Linked DNA regions of Homo sapiens. The protein of the gene in region 3 purifies or fractionates together with the protein of the main gene of each other region. This does not show direct contact. Each region holds a gene or a part of one and is shown on either strand. Other genes may lie near its edges.

Region 1 (5,020 bases), on a different chromosome or scaffold from region 3:
GAGAAGGTGAGAAGGGGCGTGGTTAGAAAAGAAAAGAGTCCGCATGTGGAGACACAGGTGGGGCCAGACTAAAGACCATGGGAAGCCCATGAAGGAATATAAGCAGAAGAGGTGCATATGATTGATCACACTTAAGTTTGCAAAGACCTTGTGGGCTACAGCATGGTAGTATGGAGAAGGATGGTGTTCTGGATGGCGGTGGTAGAGATGGAGAGAAATGGAGGAACACAAAAGCTAAAATCAACAGGCCCTGTCATGGATTGGATATATGCATGTGGAGAATGTCAGGGCTGATGTCAGGGTTTCAGCTTCTGTACAACAGTGCTAGCCACCTGTATCTCCAGTATATTTCAAAAGAGAGCTCAGGAGTATCAAATGCTGCTGATGGGTTAAGTGTGACAAGTGGTCATTTAACATGACCACTGGCTTCAATGACATAGAGGTGGCTAGATGTTAAGATGAAGTAGACTGGGTGCAGTGGCTCACGTCTGTAATCGCAGCACTTTGGGTGGATCACCTGAGGTCAGGAGTTCAAGACCAGCCTGGCCAACATGGTGAAACCTCATCTCTACTAAAAATACAAAAACTAGCTGGGTGTGGTAGCGCCCACCTGTAATCCCAGCTACTTGGGAGGCTGAGGCAGGAGAATCACTTGAACGCGGGAGGCGGAGGTTGCAGTGAGCTGAAATCCTGCCATTGTACTCCATCCTGGGCAACAAGAGCGAAACTCAAAAAAAAAAAAAAATGATGAGGCATGGAAGAAAATCCATATGAAGAAGGTGGGGTGAGGAGTGAGTGGGAAGCAAGAAAACAAAGCCAGTGAATATAAAACACTTTTTCAAGAGAAGGTTGCTTGTGAAGGAGACAGGGCTAGAGCTGGAAGGGCACAGCAGGGTCAATGGAAAGGGTTCTGGGAAAGATGTGATGGAAGGGAAAAGGCTGAATACACAAGAGATGAAATACATGGACAGGATTAGGTTTTGACAAGGTGGAAGGAGATGTAGAGGTCAAAAGATCGGTCTTAGGAAAGACACCTTATCTTCCGTAGAAGGAAGAAAAGAGAAAATGGGTGCCCTATTCTGTTTTGATGTTTCTGAGCTTTTTCTTTTTTCTTCAAAGGAAAAAAAATGTTTTCAGGCCACTCAATTTCTACTGTCTACAATTAAGGTGAACACACATAACTTTATACCATATTGTTGGGTTTGTGTATTTTCAAAATAAGATCCAACTCAGGAAAAGTATAAAGGCAAGATCAAGTTTACATACATTATTGTCAATTTTGTTTAAATCTACATGTTCATTATAAATATACAGGGCTGTTTCTCATTACCTAGAAGATGGCTGGGTCATAAGACAGACTGGATACATTCCAGTCAGAAACCTACCATCGTTCAACGTGTAGAGATGAAAACGTCCGTGAAGCTGCTTCTCGAGTAAATAATTTGAACCCACACTGTGTGTCCCTGATTCCTTTGACACAAAGGAACCACACCAGAAAGTGGAACCCATACATGAGAAGAGTACGGAAGTAAGAACGCTGAAAACAAAGACAAAATATAAATGACTTTTCCATTCATCTGTAAAGGAGACACTGAAAACACCTGGCTGTAGACAACTGTATTTTAATATTTAATTGACTGGTAGATCTTACATAAGAACACCACTGTTCCATGAGCTTCACCAACAAAGTATATTAAAGAAACAGCAAGAATGCCTACTGCTTGGAGCAGAGTAGAGGCACTAGGAAGCAGTTACTCATTTCCTGGAGGTTGAGTCAGACAAGCGGCCAGGGCTTTAGCCTACCAGGAGAAACAGGTTTGGGGCTGCTGCTGTGAGCAAGGAGAACGTCTTGTTTACTTACATATTTTATGCTGCTTTGCCCCACATGTATTTCAGTTTCAAAAAAGCTGTCAGTTTCCAGGATGTATTGACAAAACAAAGCACAGATATAAGCCTGCAGTTGATACTTAACTAATGAGAATATTGACAGAAGATGTATAGCAGAGTATCATGAAGGTTATGGACTAGAAAGGAGTTTGAAACAAACACCTGGTCTTTCTAAGCATGCCAGAGATCTAATTAAATACATTTAAAATATTGAGTTCTTTAATACTTTGGATATTAAGATTAAGTAGGTTTTAATCCCATCTGAAGTTTCACTACTGTTACTGATGATTAATTTTATTAGTAGTAACAGAATATTCCATTATTCATAAAACATAGCACATTTTAAAACATAAGAACATAAGATTATTATCACTGGATTCCAGACTTTCACATTTAAGATTTAGTAAAAGATAGGATCTTTCTAAAAAATAAAATAACAAAATTTTTTTTAGAGACAGAGACGCCTTCTGTTGTCCAGGCTAGAGTCCAGTGGTGTGGTCATGGTTCACTGCAGCCTCAAATTCCTGGGATCAAGTGATCCTTCTGCCTCAACCTACAGAGCAGCTGGGATCACAGGCGTGTGCCACTATACCCAGCTTCTTTAAGACACGATCTTTTAAAATGTTCCTTAGTTAAGGCAATAGACTCAAGTAATGATGCGTTACTTACATACATAAGCAACCTATTAAGAGTCTATTAGAACATTTAATATCTCATACTATGGGATAAAGGTCCCTTCCTCCTTTTGGCTTTTGCTTTTCAAAATTATAATTTTTAGTATCGTTCTTCCTTTGCATGGCTTTTTCCATCAACACCAAACAGAACCACAGTGGAACAGAGTAACAAAGAAAAAGCACCAAATCAGGCGAGGTGCGGTGGCTCACACCTGTAATCCCAGCACTCTGGGAGGCCGAGGCAGGTGGATTGCTTGAGGTCAGGGGTTCAAGACCAGCCTGCCCAACATGGCGAAACCCCATCTCTACTAAAAATACAAAAATTAGCCAGGCATGGTGGCACACGCCTGTAGTCCCAGCTACTTAGGAGGCTGAGGCAGAAGAATCGCTTGAACTTGGGAGGCACAGGTTGCAATGAGCCGAGATGGCGCCACTGTACCCCAGCCTGGGTGACAGAGTGAGACTCCAACTCAAAAAAAAAAAAAAAGAAAAAAAGAAAAGAAAAGAAAAAGCACCAAACTAGGAGGCCTATATTGGAATCCTGGCTCCGTTACTAATTAGCAGGGTGACCTTCAACAAGTTACTTCAGCCCTCTAAGTCCATTTCCTGATAAAATGAGAATAATGCCTACCTCACAAAGTTATTATAAGGATTAAATGAGATTATTTTAAAGAATATAGCGAAGTGTTTGGCACAGAAAATAACAGGAACTCAATAATGTTCTTCATACAGGAAGAAAGCTTGAAAGCTTACTTTACTCTCCTGACCACAATTTTACTTATGTATTAAATAGGGCAGGAAGGAAAGGAAGAATAAAATACTTATCTATATGGTATGTAAAACAAACTTTTAAAAATGATCTAGCACTTCTCATTTATCATCTAGAATCATTAGTTATGGGTTGATGTAAATATGTCTTACCTCTCTAAGTAGATAGGGCAGAAACCTCATCTTAAAATACTTTAGGAATCTCACAACAGCTTGCTCAGTGCCTTCCATACAAAATACTTCCAATAAATACTGGTTGACTGATTAAACCTCCAAAAGAGCACTTATGCTTAGGAAAGGAACAAATAGAAATTGAAAGATAGAAAAATAAAAATTAAAGGTAGAAAAACAATACCTATAAATTATTCTCCTTGAGTGATTTTTAATGTGATTTGAGTGAGCTTATTTGTTCGCAAATAAAACTATTCATGACTGCTCTGGCTTGGATGTTAATAACAGGATTTTTGTTTGCTTTAGGATAATGGCTATTTTTTAAAAAGCAGAAAAATGTAGAGTTCACATGAAGACCTTAAGTTATTTGATTTCTAACATATTTAAAAGCTTAACAAGGTTAGTCACAAACAAGATAATCTTGTTTTTGTTTTTAGAACTTTGCAAAATATCTTAAAATTTAGAAGATACCTAAAATATAGGATAGACTTATTTAGTTAAGTGAAGCTACTAAAAGAGAGAAGGCTTATATGATCTTCTGAAATGGCCATTTAAAACATTAAGGAAAACAATTTTCACTGTTTCAGTGTTAACGCTAGTATCTTCAATGTTTATAAAATGTAAACAAGAAATTAATTCAGGTGAAATTTAAAGGTGACTTCTAATTTCATTAACTTAAAATAAGAAGTTCAAAGAAGTCCCAGGACTTAAGCAAAGACTCTTTAAACAAAAACTAAAAACATTAAGTAACCACTAATGGATTCTATTTTTGAATCCTTTTAAAATGATAAATTCAAGAATAGCCAGACCATATATAAACATTACCGTTATACAGAACACATGGGAATGTAAGCACTTTTAAGGATGATACAAGACTCTATCAGGGCAGTGTCATGTTTGTCTTCCAAGGGAGCAGTAAAAGAGGTGGTAGAATAATTGAGAAATGTAGAAAAATATCAAGGAAAGATGTTTCTGAACATTAGGCAATAAGCTACCGAAGTTGTCATTTGCTATCTTGATTAGTTCTTTTATAATTTTCTCATTGTCCACAGATTGATCACCATGCAGGGGTTTATTACTGACAGCACACGAAGGGAAATGGAAAGCCATGCTGCAGTTTTCTAGACATGAGGCGGATGCATGTCTTGTGCCTTCTTGGAGACAACCTTTTGTGAGACAGCTATGATTCTATAAGAATAAGCTGGACTTGAACAAGCCTACTGAGCAGTAGTTGTCATAGCATCTGCAGCGGACAACCAATGATCTCTAGTGAGTATCAAAGGTTATCCCTTCTTTCTATAGAATGGCAGCCAATTCTGTGGGAATCAAGAACACTAAACCAAACACTTGGTTTTAGAGCTGAAAGAATGGATGGATGGAGACAAGATGAATTATAAATATGTGGTTCCTGCGATTGATCCCTTGATACCTGGCTAAGAGCAGTACTAGGTAAAAGATTTAGACCATAGCATAAGTCTCATTTAAATACTAGTGTATTTCTAGGAAAAATTCAGAGTTTT
Region 2 (5,020 bases), on a different chromosome or scaffold from region 3:
TATGTGACCTTGAACAAATTGCTTATCCCCTTTGTGCCTCAGTTTCTTCATCTTCATTAACTATTCAGCATTAAGCATCTTCATAAGCATGAGCATGAAATGCATTCAGATGGAGTGCTTACAATAGTATCTAATACTTGGTAAACATTAGATTATTATATTTCTCTTTGTGAAAACAGCTCAAATGAATAACGAAAATGTCTACTTTATACTTCACATTTCATGAAGCTTCGTGATTTAAAACAGAGCAACTTGGCCTGGTGCAGTGGCTTGTGCCTGTAATCCCAGCACTTTGGGAGGCTGAGGCAGGTGGATTGCTTGAGCTCTGAAGTTCAAGACCAGGCTGGGCAATATGGCAAGACCCTGCCTCCACTAAAAATATAAAAAAATAGCCAGGCATTGGGGTGCACACCTGTGGTCCCAGCTACTCGGGAGGCTGAGGCCCGAGAACCGCTTGAACCCGAGAGGCAAAGGTTGTAGTGAGCCGAGATCACGCAGCTGCAATCTAGCCTGGGTGACAAAGCGAGACCCTGTCTCAAAATAAATAAAGAAAATAGAGCAGCTTGTTTAATCTCACAAAAACCTGATGATGTATAAGTATTACCATCCCTTTTTTAAACAGAAGAAACAGAGTTTCAGAGAGGTCAATTGTCTTCCTTGGCTCACAAAACTTGACAGAATACAGGCCTTCTAACTAAAACATCCAGGGCTTCTATCACCATACCACAGTTGCTTAAATACGTTAGGAGATGTGCCCACCCCCGACCCCGACGCCCCCGCCTTTTTAATGGCTATATGATATCATGTATTTGTTTGGGCAAAACATGTTTCTTTCTGAGCTTTTCTTTACTCACAGTAAAATGGCAACAATAACACTTATGGGGTAGTATGTTACAAACATCAAACAAGAGAACATAAGTAAAAGGCCCAGAAGAGTGTCTAGAATGCAGTAGGTACTCTGAATTTAACTCTCTGTTCTTCTCTCCTCTGGCAAAGAAAAAAAAATACAGACAGATCATCATCAACTCTTTTTAGTCTTAGGGAGTTTCAAGGGGTCTAGGAATGGGACTGCAGAGAACCAAGTCTACCATTCTGTTATCAGCAACTGTCCAAAGAAGAAAAGACTACTTTAGCAAGCATCTCTCTCTCTTGAGGCATGCTATTATTTTCAGGCTCTTAGGAGCTGGGTTCTCTGTTTTGAATTGCTCTATGCTAAACAGTAACCACCTAATGATTTGACTTCTTGGATGGATTTTCCTAACAAGCAAAGAAGAAGGTAGGTCCACTGCTTGGTAGCATATGAACTGCTTGGCAATGAAACTCCCACCTTTTGTTTTATGCATAAGTCTTAGTGCATTTAGTTGGTGTGACCCATTCTCCACTGACAAGGCTCACTCTAGGCATCATTACAAAGTCAATTTGGGGACCTGGAAAACTGAGGACCAGGTCCTGATCCCTAGGGTCCACACTTTATCTCCGTTCTGTCCCTATTCATCTGCCAGTTGATCTATTGCAATAGTCTCCTAACTAGTCTCTTTTCTTCCCACCCAGTCTATTCTCCCTTGTCAGGAACTCCCAATTTCTAAAACATAAAGTCTGAACTGTCCAGTAGGATTTTTAAAGCTAACATTTTCTCTCAATAAATCTATCTATTTATCTTAATTAATTTTCATGACCATCCTGTGAAATTGTAGAGTTCCACACTCCCACATCCAGAAATTCTTGGGAGCCAGATGAGTCTCAGAATTTAGGGTTTTTCAGACTTTAGAACAACCATGGAGTGCATGGATTATATGACATTACAGTCTCTTTGGGAAACACCTCATAATCAAAGATGTTGATATTTCTGTAGCCTAATGTATACATGGTGTCTCTAAGAGGAAATAAAGACAATTTAAAAAAACAGGCTGGGCACCACAATTTGGAAGGCCGACGCAGACAGATCACCTGAGGTCAGGAGTTCAACCTGGCCAACTGGTGAAACCCCGTCTCTACTAAAAACACACAAAAAATTAGCCAGGTGTGGTGGCACGTGCCTGTAGTCCCAGCTACTCAGGAGGCTGAGACAGGAGAATCGCTTGAACCCGAAAGGCAGAGGTTGCAGGGAGCCGAGATCGCACCACCGTACTCCAGCCTGGGTGACAGAGCGACACTCCATCTGAAGAAAAATAAAAATTAAAATTAAAAACCACTAAAAGTTTCTTTCTGGTAGTTTTTGCTGCCAAGTGAGTTCAGATCAGGTCATTTTCTTGCTACCAAGTGAGCTAGGCTACCAAATCAAAGCAAAACAAGAGAAACAAAATAATAATTTGTGGTTTTACAATTTTGGAATTTTAAAATTACAAATACGTGGTTGTGGACCTATATCACGATTCAGTTTTATAGATGAGGAAAATGAGGCTTGGAGAGATTCACTAATTTGCCTGAGATTTTAAGGAACTGAGATTTGAATCAAGGCAGTGAGCCTCCTGGCTTCAAATGTCTGGACTCCTTCTTGCCCACCAGAAGTGCCTTCTCTGACTCCACCCACTAACAGCCACGTTCTGTTTAGGTTCACCACTGGCCTAGGGACATGAGACCTGATGACAGCTCTTCCCATCCTGAGTTCCTGCAGCTGCTTTGAGTGCTTTGCTTCCCTACTAGACTCCTGAGTCCTTCCAGGTCAGGGATTCTGTATCCTTGCTTTTCTAGTCCCTGGGCCACAGTGGCACTCCAAAAATATTTGCTGAATTGAACTTAAAGCTTTAACCAGGAACACAGGAGAAAAGGTAACATTAGAACTATGAGAAATCATAGAGTCATGAATGCCTGATTTGCGTCCCAATCTGCACATTGTCCTATAAGAGTTTGAGATGTAGGTTTACATGTTGTGCTAAACCTGGTCATTCTGGTGTAATATAGCATCCCCATCCTGTCTTCCCCACCATACCCTCCCCCACCACACATTCACACAATGTGCATTCCCCTACCATATATGAACACACACATACTCATCAGGTTTTAAGACTTACGACATGAAGAAAGTACCTTTCCGTAGAACATCAGTTTGTTCAGAATATTCTACATATGTAGGAATTTGCTCCACAATGTACAGAGTGCCTTTGTCAAGACTGTGGTTCAGCTTTACTTTCTTCAGGTCCAGAACCATGTATTGATTGTTATAGGTGCCTGAAATATCAGGAAACATGAAGACGGGGCATGGGTATGACTTTACTGGTTAACAAGCCTAAATCAAAATATATGTCTGTGCCTAACAGTTATTCTGCAGGGTCACTTACCAGAGTTGTATTTTGAAAAGATGTCTGCCCACCTCTTGCCACTATCTGCCATCATATTGGCCACACGGACTCTTTGCCAGGACAGGAGAGTCTCGGGTATTACCTGCTTTAGCAGGGTTTTATTAAACACACTGTTTGTGGTCTGCAGCAATATCAATCCACTGCTAAGAATGTAAAAATCATCCAGAGACTCCAAAAACCCTACAGGAAAGACAAATATACACATCAGCATATGTATACATGGAACAGTGAACCATCATTATTGACAAAGAGCTTTACATACACAATGCATTTTGCAAAGTGTATCAGTTATTACTATCCTTGATCTGCAGTAGCCTCCCCCAGCTTTGGCTCACCTCTGTGGTAGTCACCCAACTGCCCCTTATAGAGGTGCCAAAAGAACTCCACCCCTGGATTCTCCATTGAAAATTTATTTTGTGATTTGAAATAACAAAAATATGTTAAATCCAGAACATTGCAAGCTTCCAGAATGATAAACAGATGTAGATCCCGACTTGCTAGGATTTTGCAGGAGAATTTTTAATTAGGGAGGGGATTAGCAGGGTTCATTAGTAAGAATATAAATGCCTTTTTTTCTTCTTTTCTACTTTCCTGTATTTTTCAAATTTTGTATAAGTCTACTTTTTTTTTTTTTTTGACACACAGTCTGACTCTGTCACCCAGGCTGCAGTGTGGTGGCATGATCTCAGCTCACTGCAACCTTGCCTCCTGGGTTCAAGCAATTCTTGTGCCTCAGCCTCCTGAGTAGCTGGGGTTACAGGTGTGCACCACCACACCTGGCTAATTTTTGTATTTTTAGTAGAGACCGGGTTTCACCGTGTTGGCCAGGCTGGTCTCAAACTCCTGACCTCAAGTGATTCACCCACCTTAGCCTCTAAAGTGCTGGGATTACAGGTGTGGGCCACCACACCCGGCTAAGTCTACATAATTTTTATAAATGGAAAAACATCTACATTTAGAAAAGTAAAGATGGTTTTGAAACTAGGGCATTGACACTCTTGGTCAATGCTTTTTTATAAATGTTGGAGGCAACACAGGAAAATCAGTGAAGCCACAGTCTTTTCTGAAGACCTATTTTGTGGTTTATACTGGGATGAGTATGGAAAGGATAGAATATCAGGCACAGCTGTAATAAAAAGAGAGGATATACTGTCATCAGTAACAGTAATGGAACAACTGTCAGTGTTAAACAGAAAAGGACCTCAGTGGTAGGGTTAGAAGGGGCCAGAGTGGTAAGTTCCTTCGGTGCATCCTGCTGAAGGGTTTTAAGGCCCTTACAAAACAGTCCCGAGGGAGCTAGCTAGCCCCTTCCACTATGTGAGGTCACAGAGAGAAGGCACTGTCTACGAGAAACAGACCCTCATTAGACACTGAGTCTTCCAGTCCCTTCATCTTGGGCTTCCCAGCCTCCAGAACTGTGAGCAATAACATTTCTATAGCTTATAAATTACCTAGTCTGAGGTGTTTTGTCATAGTAGTCAGAATGGACTGAGATGGTCTCAAATTTCTACCATGATTTTTTACCACTTTTATCATTTTTGCCATATCTGAGTACTATCTGAACTATCATTTAGTTAATATTTTTGTTATTTTTTAACTGACAAGTAAAAATTATATATATTTATGTTATACAAAAGAAAGGATATTTTGATATCTGACAAGGAAACATTGTATATATTTTGGCATACAAAATGATATTCTGATATATGTATACATTGTCA
Region 3 (4,784 bases):
TTCTGTGTTTGTTAACATACTCAGTGTGACTCTGCTGTACATGTGTGAACCCTGCTGTTTTCATTCAACATTTACTGTTGGGGAGACCCTTCTTTGTTATACTGTTGCACATGCCTCTGAGGTCTCTCCCTTCACACATCTCCCTGAGGCTGCCTGGGCATCTAGGTTGTTTGCAGTCCCCGCCCCCCTTTTTTTTTTGAGACGGAGTTTCGCTCTTGTTGCCCAGGCTGGAGCGCAATGGCGCGATCTTGGCTCACCGCTGCAGTTCCCTTTTGAAATTAACCCCCAGGACATCCACCGTTGAATATGAAGGTTTTTTCCCAATTTCCTGATAGTTTAATTCCCAGAAGTGGAATTACTGGATCCAAGAGCAGGGATTTTTGTTTGTTTGTTTGTTTTTTGAGATGGAGTCTCCCTGTATTGCCCAGGCTGGAGTGCTATGTCGTGATCTCGCCTCACTGCACCTTCCACCTCCTGGGTTCAAGCGATTCTCCTGCATCAGCCTCCTGAGTAGCTGGGATTACAGGCGTGTGCCACCACGCCCAGCTAATTTTTGTATTTTTGGTAGAGATGAGGATTCACCATGTTGGCCAGGCTGGTCTGGAACTCCTGACCTCAAGTGATCTGCCCGCCTCGGCCTTCCAAAGTCCTGGCATTTACAGGCATGAGCCACTGCATTTGGTCGTTTTTTGTTTTGGTTTGGTTTTTTTAAGATGGAGTCTCCCTCTGTCGCCCAGGCTGGAGTGCAATGGCAAGATCTCGGCTCACTGCAACCTCTGCCTCCCGGGTTCAATCAGTTCTCTGCCTCAGCCTCCTGAGTAGCTGGGATTACAGGCGCCTTCCACCACACCCAGCTACTTTTTATATTTTTAGTGGAGATGGGGTTTCACCATCTTGGCCAGGCTAGTCTTGAACCCCTGACCTTGTGATCCACCCACCTCGGCCTCCCAAAGTGCTGGGATTTACAGGCGTGAGCCACCGTGCCCGGCCTGTTTTTTTGTTTTTGAGACAGAGTCTTGCTCTGTTGCCCAGGCTGGAGTGCAGTGGCGCAATCTTGGCTCATTGCAACCTCCACCTCCTGGGTTCAAGTGATTCTCCTGTTTCAGCCTCCCAAGTAGCTGGGATTACAGATGTGTGCCACCACGCCCTGCTAATTTTTGTATTTTCAGTAGAAACCAGGTTTCACCATGCTGGCTAGGCTGGTCTCAAACTCCTGACCTCAAGTGATCCGCCCGCCTCAGACTCCCAAAGTGCTGGGATTACAGGCGTGAGCCATCGCGCCTGGCCTGAGATTTTTGTTTTGTTTTTGAGACAGATTCTTACTCTTTCACCCAGGCTGGAGTTCAGTGGAGTGATCACAGTTCACCGCAGCCTCCACCTCCTGGGCTCAGGTGATCCTCCTGCATCAGCCTTCCCAGTAGCTGGGACTACAGGCATGCACTACCATGCCCAGTTAATTTTTTTTGTATTTTTTGTAGAGACAGGGTTTTACTATGTTGCCCAGGCTGGTCTCGAGCTCCTGGTCTCAAGAGATCCATCCTGCTTGGCCTCTCAAAATGCTGGGATTACAGGTGTGAGCCACCATGCCCGGCCTGATTTTTTTTAAAGCTATTACCAAACTGTCCTCCAGAAGCACTGTCCACAGCTCCCCCGCAGGGTATAATATTGCCACCATTAGGCATCCCCATAGGAAAAAAATTATATTTACATGCACACGTGCACACATATATTTGCTAACTTGAGAGATGAGAAATGGTCTTTCTTATTTTATTGGGTTTCTTAGCCTAGGGAGTGTGACTAATACGTGTGTGGCGCTTTTTTTTTTTTTTTTTTTTTTGAGACAGTCTTGCTGTGTTGCCCAGGCTGGAGTGCAGTGGTGCGATCTCAGCTCACTGCAACCTCCACCTCCCAGGTTCAAGCAATTCTCGTGCTTCAGCCTCCCAAGTAGCTGGGACTACAGGCACCTGCCACCATGCCTGGCTAATTTTTGTATTTTTAGTAGAGACCAGGTTTTGCCATGTTGGCCAGGCTGGTCTCAAACTCCTGACCTCAAGTGATCCACCCGCCTTGGCCTCCCAAAGTGCTGGGATTATAGGCGCAAGCCACCATGCCCAGCTGTGTGTGGCTTCTTAATTATCAATTTGAAGCCTCTGCCCATTTAGTCACTTGGGTCTGTGTACTTTTCTTTTGATTTTAATTATGTACTTTCACACTCATTGAAGTTTTTGCTTTTTGTTTGTTTGTTTGAGACAGAGTCTCTGTTGCCCTGGCTGGAGTGCAGTGGCACGATCTGGGCTCACTGCAACCTCCGCCTCCCGGGTTCAAGGGTTTCTCCTACCTCACCCTCCTTAGTAGCTAGCACTACAGGTGTGCACCACCACACCCTGCAAATTTTTTTTTTTTTTTTTTTTTTTGAGATGGAGTCTCGCTCTGCCGCCCAGGCTGGAGTGCAGTGGCACGATCTCGGCTCACTGCAAGCTCCGCCTCCCAGGTTCGTGCCATTCTCCTGCCTCAGCCTCCCAAGTAGCTGGGACTACAGGCGTCCGCTGCCATGCCCGGCTAATTTTTTGTATTTTTAGTAGAGATGGGGTTTCACCATGTTAGCCAGGATAGTCTCGATCTCCTAACCTTGTGATCCGTCTGCCTCAGCCTCCCAAAGTTCTGGGATTACAGGTGTGAACCACCGCGCCCGGCCAATTTTTGTATTTTTTGATAAAGATGGGGTTTCACCTTCTTGGCCAGGCTGGTCTTGAACTCCTGACCTCAGGTAATCCACCCGCCTCAGCCTCCCAAAGTGCTGGGATTATAGGCGTGAGCCATCGCACCCAGCCGGTGTTTCGTTTGTTTGTTTGTTTTTGAGACAGAATCTCCCTCTCTTGCCATGCTGGAGTGCAGTGGCGCAATCTCAGCTCACTGCAACCTCCGCCTCCCAGGTTCAACCGATTCTCCTGCCTTAGCCTCCCGAGTGGCTGGAACTACAGGCACGTGCCACCACGCCTGGCTAATTTTTGTATTTTTAGTAGAGACGGGGTTTCACCATGTTGGCCAGGATGGTCTCGATCTCTTGACCTCGTGATCTGCTCACCTCAGCCTCCCAAAGTGCTGGGATTACAGGCATGAGCCACCATGCCTGGCCTTTTGTTTGTCTGTTTTTTTTGAGACAGAGTCTTACTGTGTCACCCAGACTGGAGTACAGTGGCATGATCTCAGCTCACTGCAACTTCTGCCTCCTGGGTTCAAGTGATTTTCCTGCCTCGTCTCCCCAGTAGCTGGGATTACAGGCACGTGCCACCATGCCCAGCTAATTTTTGCATTTTTAGTACAGCTGGGGTTTCACCATTTTGGCCACGCTGGTCTTGAACTCCTGACCTCAAGTCATCTGCCCATCTTGTCCTCCCAAAGTGCTGGGTTTACAGGCATGAGCCACCGTACCTGGCCAATATTTAATTATATTTTCTTCTAGTTGTTCTTTAACTTGATGTCTAAAAATCCTGGTCCAGATGCCAAGAGCTCCAGATACCCACCTGGAAGCTGATAACAGTAGGGAAGAGCATTGAGGGGACACCTCCAGATAGGAGCAAGGGTGGCCTTGCACTCTGGGACTGTCATTCTCAGGACAGTAACTCAACCTCCATGATTTACTTGAAACTGCCTCTTGACGTGCTCAAAAGCAAGTACAACAAAAACAAGCAAGTGCTGCCAGTCATTATGTCTGGGTGGTGGGTTGAAGGTCATATTAAATTCTCTCTTTGGGCCGGGCACTGTGGCTCATGCCTGTAATCCCAGCACTTTGGGAGGCCAAGGCAGGAGGATCATTTGAGTCTAAGAGTTTGAAACCAGCCAGGGCAACGTAGGGAGACCCCATCTCTACAAAAAAATCAAAGATTAGGGCCGGGCATGGTGGCTCACACCTGTAATCCCAGCACTTTGGGAGGCTGAGGTGGGCGGATCACGAGGTCAGGAGTTCAAGATCAGCCTGGTCAACATGGTGAAACCCCATCTGTACTAAAAATACAAAAAATTAGCCGGGCATGGTGATGGGCGCCTGTAGTCCCAGCTACTCAGGAGGCTGAAGGCAGGAGAATAGCTTGAACCCAGGAGGCGGAGCTTGCAGTGATCCAAGCTCAAGCCACTGCACTCCAGCCTGGGCGACAGAGCTAGACCTCGTCTCAAAAAACAAAAAAGTAATTAAAGATTAGTTTGGTGTGGTGGCATGCTTCTGTGGTCCCAGCTTCTCAGGAGGCTGAGGTGGGAGGGTTGCTTGAGTCCAGGAAGTCAAGGCTGCAGTGAGCTGTGATCATGCCATTGTACTCCAGCCTGGGCAACAGAGTGAGACCCTATCTCCAAAAAAAAAAAAAAAAAAAAAAAAATTCCCTGCTGCCGGGCGCAGTGGCTCACACCTATAATCCCAGCACTTTGGGAGGCCAAGGCAAGTGGATCACAAGGTCAGGAGTTTGAGACCAGCCTGGCCAATATGGTGAAACCCCGTCTCTACCAAAAATATTTAAAAATTAGCCAGGTATGGTGGCAGGCGCCTGTAGTCCCAGCTACTTGGGAGGCTGAGACAGGAGAATCACTTGAACCTGGGAGGCAGAGGTTGCAGTGAGCAGAGATCGTGCCACTGCACTCCACCCGGGGCGACAGAGCAAGACTCCGTCTCAGAAAAAAAAAAAAAAAAAAGGGCCGGGCGCAGTGGCCCATGCCTGTAATCCCAGCACTTTGGAAGGCCGAGGTGGGCAGGTCACGAGGTCAGGAGATCGAGACCATCCTGGCTAACACAGTGA
Region 4 (5,020 bases), on a different chromosome or scaffold from region 3:
GCGCACCAGGAGCAGAGCCCCTCCTCGGCTCCCAAGACACTCTTCCTTCCAGCCCCTGCCCCTCAGTGTCCAGATGCCCAGCACACTCCCACCAGCTGTTCCTGCTTCCCCCGGCCTCACCTGAGCTACTCCTGTCAACGTCTCCAGGGTATCCTCCAGGGTACCCGTTGTAGGCAGGGCCCATGGGAATCATAGCTGGTGGGGGTGGGGTCTTGGCGGGAGACAGGTGGGCATAGGTGCTGGGGGCATAAATGCTGGGAACACCTGAGGTGGCTGCTTTGCCGGCGGCATACACTGTGAGGACACAATCAACAGGAGAAGGGGGATGAGGCAGGAGCCAGGCTGCCCCATACCCATTGGGTTCCGGAGGGACCTGGGCCTGGACCTCCTTCCCAAGCCGTCCTCTCCGCTGTAGAGCTTCCTTGGACATCTGAGTCCCTGTTGGTCCTCATTCCATTTCTGCAGCATCCCTGAGGCTGGGGGACACCAGCTTCACAGAGACCCCACCCCACTTCCTGTGTGATTTTTCAGAGGGTGCACGCAGGCACCCACAGCCCCAGGGTGGCAGAACAATGTTTCATTTAACAGCATGGTAATTCGCCAACATTTGTCAATCAAAAGGTTTTACCTAAACTTCCAACTCCCCAGCTAACTTACTGGAAGAAGTGGCCACCCATGGTCTGTGTGTTTACAGGGCAACAAAGCTGCCCTTTATATAAAGCCCAGATGCTGGGTCCACCACTGTCCCCACAAGCCGAAATCAAGTATCCTCTTTGGCAGCCAAGCCCCTGTTCTAGAAAAAATGAGTCATCTGGGAGACGTGGGTCCTGCCCACCTGGTCACCTTCCAGATTGAGATGCAGTGGCAGGAGCCTCGGGAATTAACTTGCCTGCCCCGGCCAAGCAGCAAAGTGTCTCCTCTAGTGTTTCTAACTCATGGACTGCACCCATTTCTGCCTGCCCCACCAGGCTCTAGGCTTGACAGTTCAAGGTAAGATCCTCCTCCCTTCCTTCCTCCCTAGGGCAAGAGGCTTGCAAAATTCCTGGGCCCTAGGCAAGTGGCTTCCTCCCTGGGACCCCAACAGGAAAATGGAGGAGAGAGATGGGCCCAGAGAGGGTGCCTCACCTCTGATTTGGTTTGGAAGCAGAAGACTAAGTGCACAGCCTAGAGGAAGCCCCTTCATTAGCTCAGGCAGCCTGCAACTTTATCATCAGCAGTGGGACCTGCTGCCTCCTGAAGGGTGGGCGGAGGCTGTGGCAGCAGCAGATGTAACAGGGCCTCTGCCAGGGAGTTAATGGGGCCCTGGGTTGGGGTAACAGGGTCTCCGGATGGAGGAAATGTGGTGTGGGGACAGGGGAATGTGGCATTGGGACCAGCATTTAGTCCTGGCCCTAGCTCTGGTCTTAGTGGGTTCACTGCAAACTTGGTTGCAGCCCATCTGTGAAATGGACCTAACACTTACTCACTGAGCAAAAAGCTGTCAGCTGAACACAACAAGAGGGAGGGGATGGGATGGCCTGCATAAGCCTCCAGGGAGCAGTGGAATTTTTTCAGGGAAGTGATCCTTTGAGGAACCAGGTTGCACACCACTGACTTCAATGACTATAAAATTAGCCAGCGACTTCCTTAATGCTAACAACAACCCATGAAGTCAGGACCTAACAGAAGGAAACAGGACTCAGAGAGGGAAGGCTGCTTCTCTGGGGTCACTCTGTGTGCACCAGGGCTCTGACTGGTGCCCTGTCCCTCAGTCACTACTGAGGCTGATAGTGGCAGTGCCCAGCAGCTGACAGACGTAGAATATTTTATATAGGTTGGGCCCCATGCTCAATGGTGTGCACATGAGCTCGCCAAATCCCCAGATGCACCCAGTGTGGTGAGCTCTGCCATAAGCCCCATTTTATAGGGGATGACACTGAGCCCTAGGGAGGGAAACTGCTCACTGGGCTTCTGAGCAGGAAGGTGTCAAGCAGGCCTCAGCTCTCCACCTGCCCATGCTTGCAAGGATTGCCTGGCACTTCACTGTTCATGTATCTTGGACTGTGTGCACACAGGCTGGTCTACCCAGACACCCTCCTGAAGGAAACCAAGGACTGGCAACAGCTGTGGTCCCCGAGGAGGGGAAACGGGACAGCAGCTAGAGGGATGCTGAAGTGTCCATCAGTGCCACTTAGTGTACACACTGTGGTCTGGTGTCCCAAGGCTGATGGCTGTGACCACGTCAATCAGCTCCTCTGTGAAAGTGTCCCGTTGGGATATTCACAAACATTCACAGAAGAGAGACAGGAGCAAGTCTTTTTCAATTGCACATGTCTGACTCCTCTCATAGAGTTAGGTCCCTCTCTCTCTGTCTTCTGTCTTCTCTTACCTTCCCCTGCTTGGTTTGCTTACTTCCCCTTTAGCTCTCATCTCACATCCAGTCCCAGCTCTCCACAGTAGCCATGCTGGTGTGCTAGATACGACCCTAGACATAGTAGCTGGGTAAAATGTGCAGCATTCCTGTGGGTATGTGTTTTCAAACATTTGCTTAAATTTGGCCAGGCATGGTGGCTCACACCTGTAGTCCTAACACTTTGGGAGGCCAAGGTAGGGGTGCGGGGGAGCGGACTGCCTGAGGTCAGGAGTTCGAGACCAGCCTGGCCAACATGGCAAAACCCCGTCTCTACTAAAAATACAAAAATTAGTCAGGCGTGGTGGCAGGCGCCTATATCCCAGCTACTCGGGAGGCTGAGGCAGGAGAATAGCTTAAACCCGGGGGGCGGAGGTTGCAGTGAGCAGAGATCACGCCACTTTACTCCAGCCTGGGCGACAGAGTGAAACTGTCTCCAAAAAAAAAAAAAAATTTGCTTAAGTTTAAGGCCAGGTGTGGTAGTTCATGCCTGTAATCCCATCACTTTGGGAGCCTGAGGCAGGATCACTTGAGGTCAAGAGTTCAAGACCAGCCTGGGCAACATAGCAAGACCCTGTCTCTACAGAAAATTTTTAAAAATTGGCCAGCATGGTGGCACATGCCTGTAATCCCAGCACTTTGGGGAGGCTGACTTGGGAGGATCACCTGAGGCCAGGAGTTTGAGATCAGGCTGGGCAACATACTGAGACCCCGTCTCTACAAAAAACAAAAATCAAAAAATTAGCTGGGCATGGTGGTGTGTGCCTACAGTCCCAGCTGCTCCAGAGGCTGAGGCGGGAGGACTGCTTGAACCCGGGAGTTTGAGGCTGCAGAGAGCTATGATCGCACTGCACTGCCTGGATGACAGAATGAGACCCTTTCTCTAAAACAAAAAAAATTTTTTTTGCTTAAATCATGTAGTGTTGTAAACCTTGTTTGGTTTCTTAACTTTTTCACTTAACATTTTTTTTTCTTTTTTTTTTGAGACAGAGTCTCACTCTGTCGCCCAGGCTGGAGTGCAGTGGCGTGATCTCAGCTCACTGCAACCTCCACTTCTTGGGTTTAAGCGATTCTCATGCCTCAGTCTCCTGAGTAGCTGGGATTACAGGCGATCACCACCATGCCCAGCTAATTTTTGTATTTTTAGTAGAGAACTGGGTTTTACCATGTTGGCCAGGCTGATCTGGAACTCCTGACCTCAAGTGATCCACTCGTCTTGGCCTCCCAAAGTGCTGGGATTACAGGCGTAATCACTGCGCCTAGCCAAGATTTGGTTTTTTTAGAGGGCTTTACTTCCATGTGACTAGTATCTTGTACTGTTGGACATTTTTACCATGTGTATGGATTATACTTACAAAAGAAAAGAACAACATAAATAAAAATAAACTAAAAGTTGGAGGAAGTAAACGACAATCTAAACAGCAGACCCTCCTCAGCCTACTTTCTCCCCACTGGCTAAATTCACACCCTCCAGACCAACGCCACTGTCCTGGGGGCAGGTGGATGGCCACCTCCTTCCCTTGGATGCAGGATGTTGCCCAAACCAGGGTGGCCATGAGCGGGACACTTACGGGCCTCGGGGCAGCAGCACTTGTCTGGGCAGCAGGGGCACCTGACGTAGCAGCAGCAAGTGTGCGGGCAGCACTGGCACCAGCAGATGCCCAGGAGGAGGAAGATGAGGAAGGCAGCCAGGCATACCACAACCACGAAGAGCCAGTCTGCAGAAAGACAACAGGCCCTGAGCCCGGAGGCCTGGGAGGGAACAGGGCTAACGGCACAGCAGGGGTACATGGTGCGGAGCCAGCACTGAGGTCGGGGACGATTTGCAAAGCTCACCAAGGAACCTGCAGCCCTGGCTGGATTTTTTGTGCCAGAGGCTGGGCACAGCACACTCCCCATTCTACCATCCCGGCCATTCCCCAGTTACGGCCCTCCCCCAGGTGCAAAAAACACAAGGCAGAAAACGAGGCAGCCTGCACAGAGGGAGACAGACTGCAGCCCCCAGACCAAAGAGAGAGCCAGCTGCCCAGACGCCACACCCTCAAGAGCACCGCAGGTGCCAGTCACAGAGCCCTGGCCTGCACCCCAGGCTCTCCTCAGCCCAGCCTAGCCTAGGCCCAGCGCCAGACCACTAGATGCCTCAGAGCCACAGTCAGGCCAGGTTAGTGAGGGGTCCACAGTGAGCAGGGTTTAGTGGGGAAGGGGATACTAACTAGAGTCAGAAGCAGTAGGTGATGTATGGGAGCTCCCGAGAAGCCCAACTCAGGATCCACCCCCCGTACCTTCTATGGGCCCCGCCTGAAAACCAGGTAAGAGCTCAGCCACCCCTGAGGTCCTCCCTGGAGGGACAAAAGAGAAACAGATTATGCTGGCCAGAGCCAGCCCAGGCTGTGCCACCCCCGAAAGCCCAGCTCCAGGCTGGCCAAGTGCAAGGTGTGCCCTGAAGCGGGAAGGGGCTGGGGGCTGAAGCCCTAGTGCATGGCTCCTACCCTCCACCCGCCCACATGTGGGTGCTTATAGGTAAGAAACTCCCATTGCATAATCCACCTGTGTTATGCCACGAGGGCTCCAATACAAATCCCAGGGGGTTCTGAGGGCTCTACCTCAGCTTGGGCACCCTAAGTTTCCCTC

The links. The genes of interacting proteins can lie anywhere in the genome.
Region 1: the proteins of LSMEM2 (region 3) and ALG5 purify together in Homo sapiens (affinity purification with mass spectrometry; one large-scale study listed by BioGRID and IntAct). This does not show direct contact.
Region 2: the proteins of LSMEM2 (region 3) and PLBD1 purify together in Homo sapiens (co-immunoprecipitation; one large-scale study listed by IntAct). This does not show direct contact.
Region 4: the proteins of LSMEM2 (region 3) and LSR purify together in Homo sapiens (co-immunoprecipitation; 2 studies listed by BioGRID and IntAct, with this or other methods). This does not show direct contact.

The regions. Positions count from the first base shown.
Region 1 is NC_000013.11:36,964,190-36,969,209, forward strand, and holds part of ALG5 (dolichyl-phosphate beta-glucosyltransferase), read right to left. Parts: intron 3,619-5,020; exon of another isoform or gene 3,483-3,618; intron 1,538-3,482; coding exon 1,386-1,537; intron 1-1,385. UniProt on the Homo sapiens protein: Dolichyl-phosphate beta-glucosyltransferase that operates in the biosynthetic pathway of dolichol-linked oligosaccharides, the glycan precursors employed in protein asparagine (N)-glycosylation.
Region 2 is NC_000012.12:14,508,233-14,513,252, forward strand, and holds part of PLBD1 (phospholipase B-like 1 precursor), read right to left. Parts: intron 3,480-5,020; coding exon 3,279-3,479; intron 3,169-3,278; coding exon 3,028-3,168; intron 1-3,027. UniProt on the Homo sapiens protein: In view of the small size of the putative binding pocket, it has been proposed that it may act as an amidase or a peptidase.
Region 3 is NC_000003.12:50,281,257-50,286,040, reverse strand, and holds part of LSMEM2 (leucine-rich single-pass membrane protein 2), read right to left. Parts: intron 1-4,784.
Region 4 is NC_000019.10:35,261,633-35,266,652, reverse strand, and holds part of LSR (lipolysis-stimulated lipoprotein receptor isoform 2 precursor), read right to left. Parts: intron 4,729-5,020; coding exon 4,672-4,728; intron 4,108-4,671; coding exon 3,961-4,107; intron 295-3,960; coding exon 121-294; intron 1-120. UniProt on the Homo sapiens protein: Probable role in the clearance of triglyceride-rich lipoprotein from blood. Binds chylomicrons, LDL and VLDL in presence of free fatty acids and allows their subsequent uptake in the cells.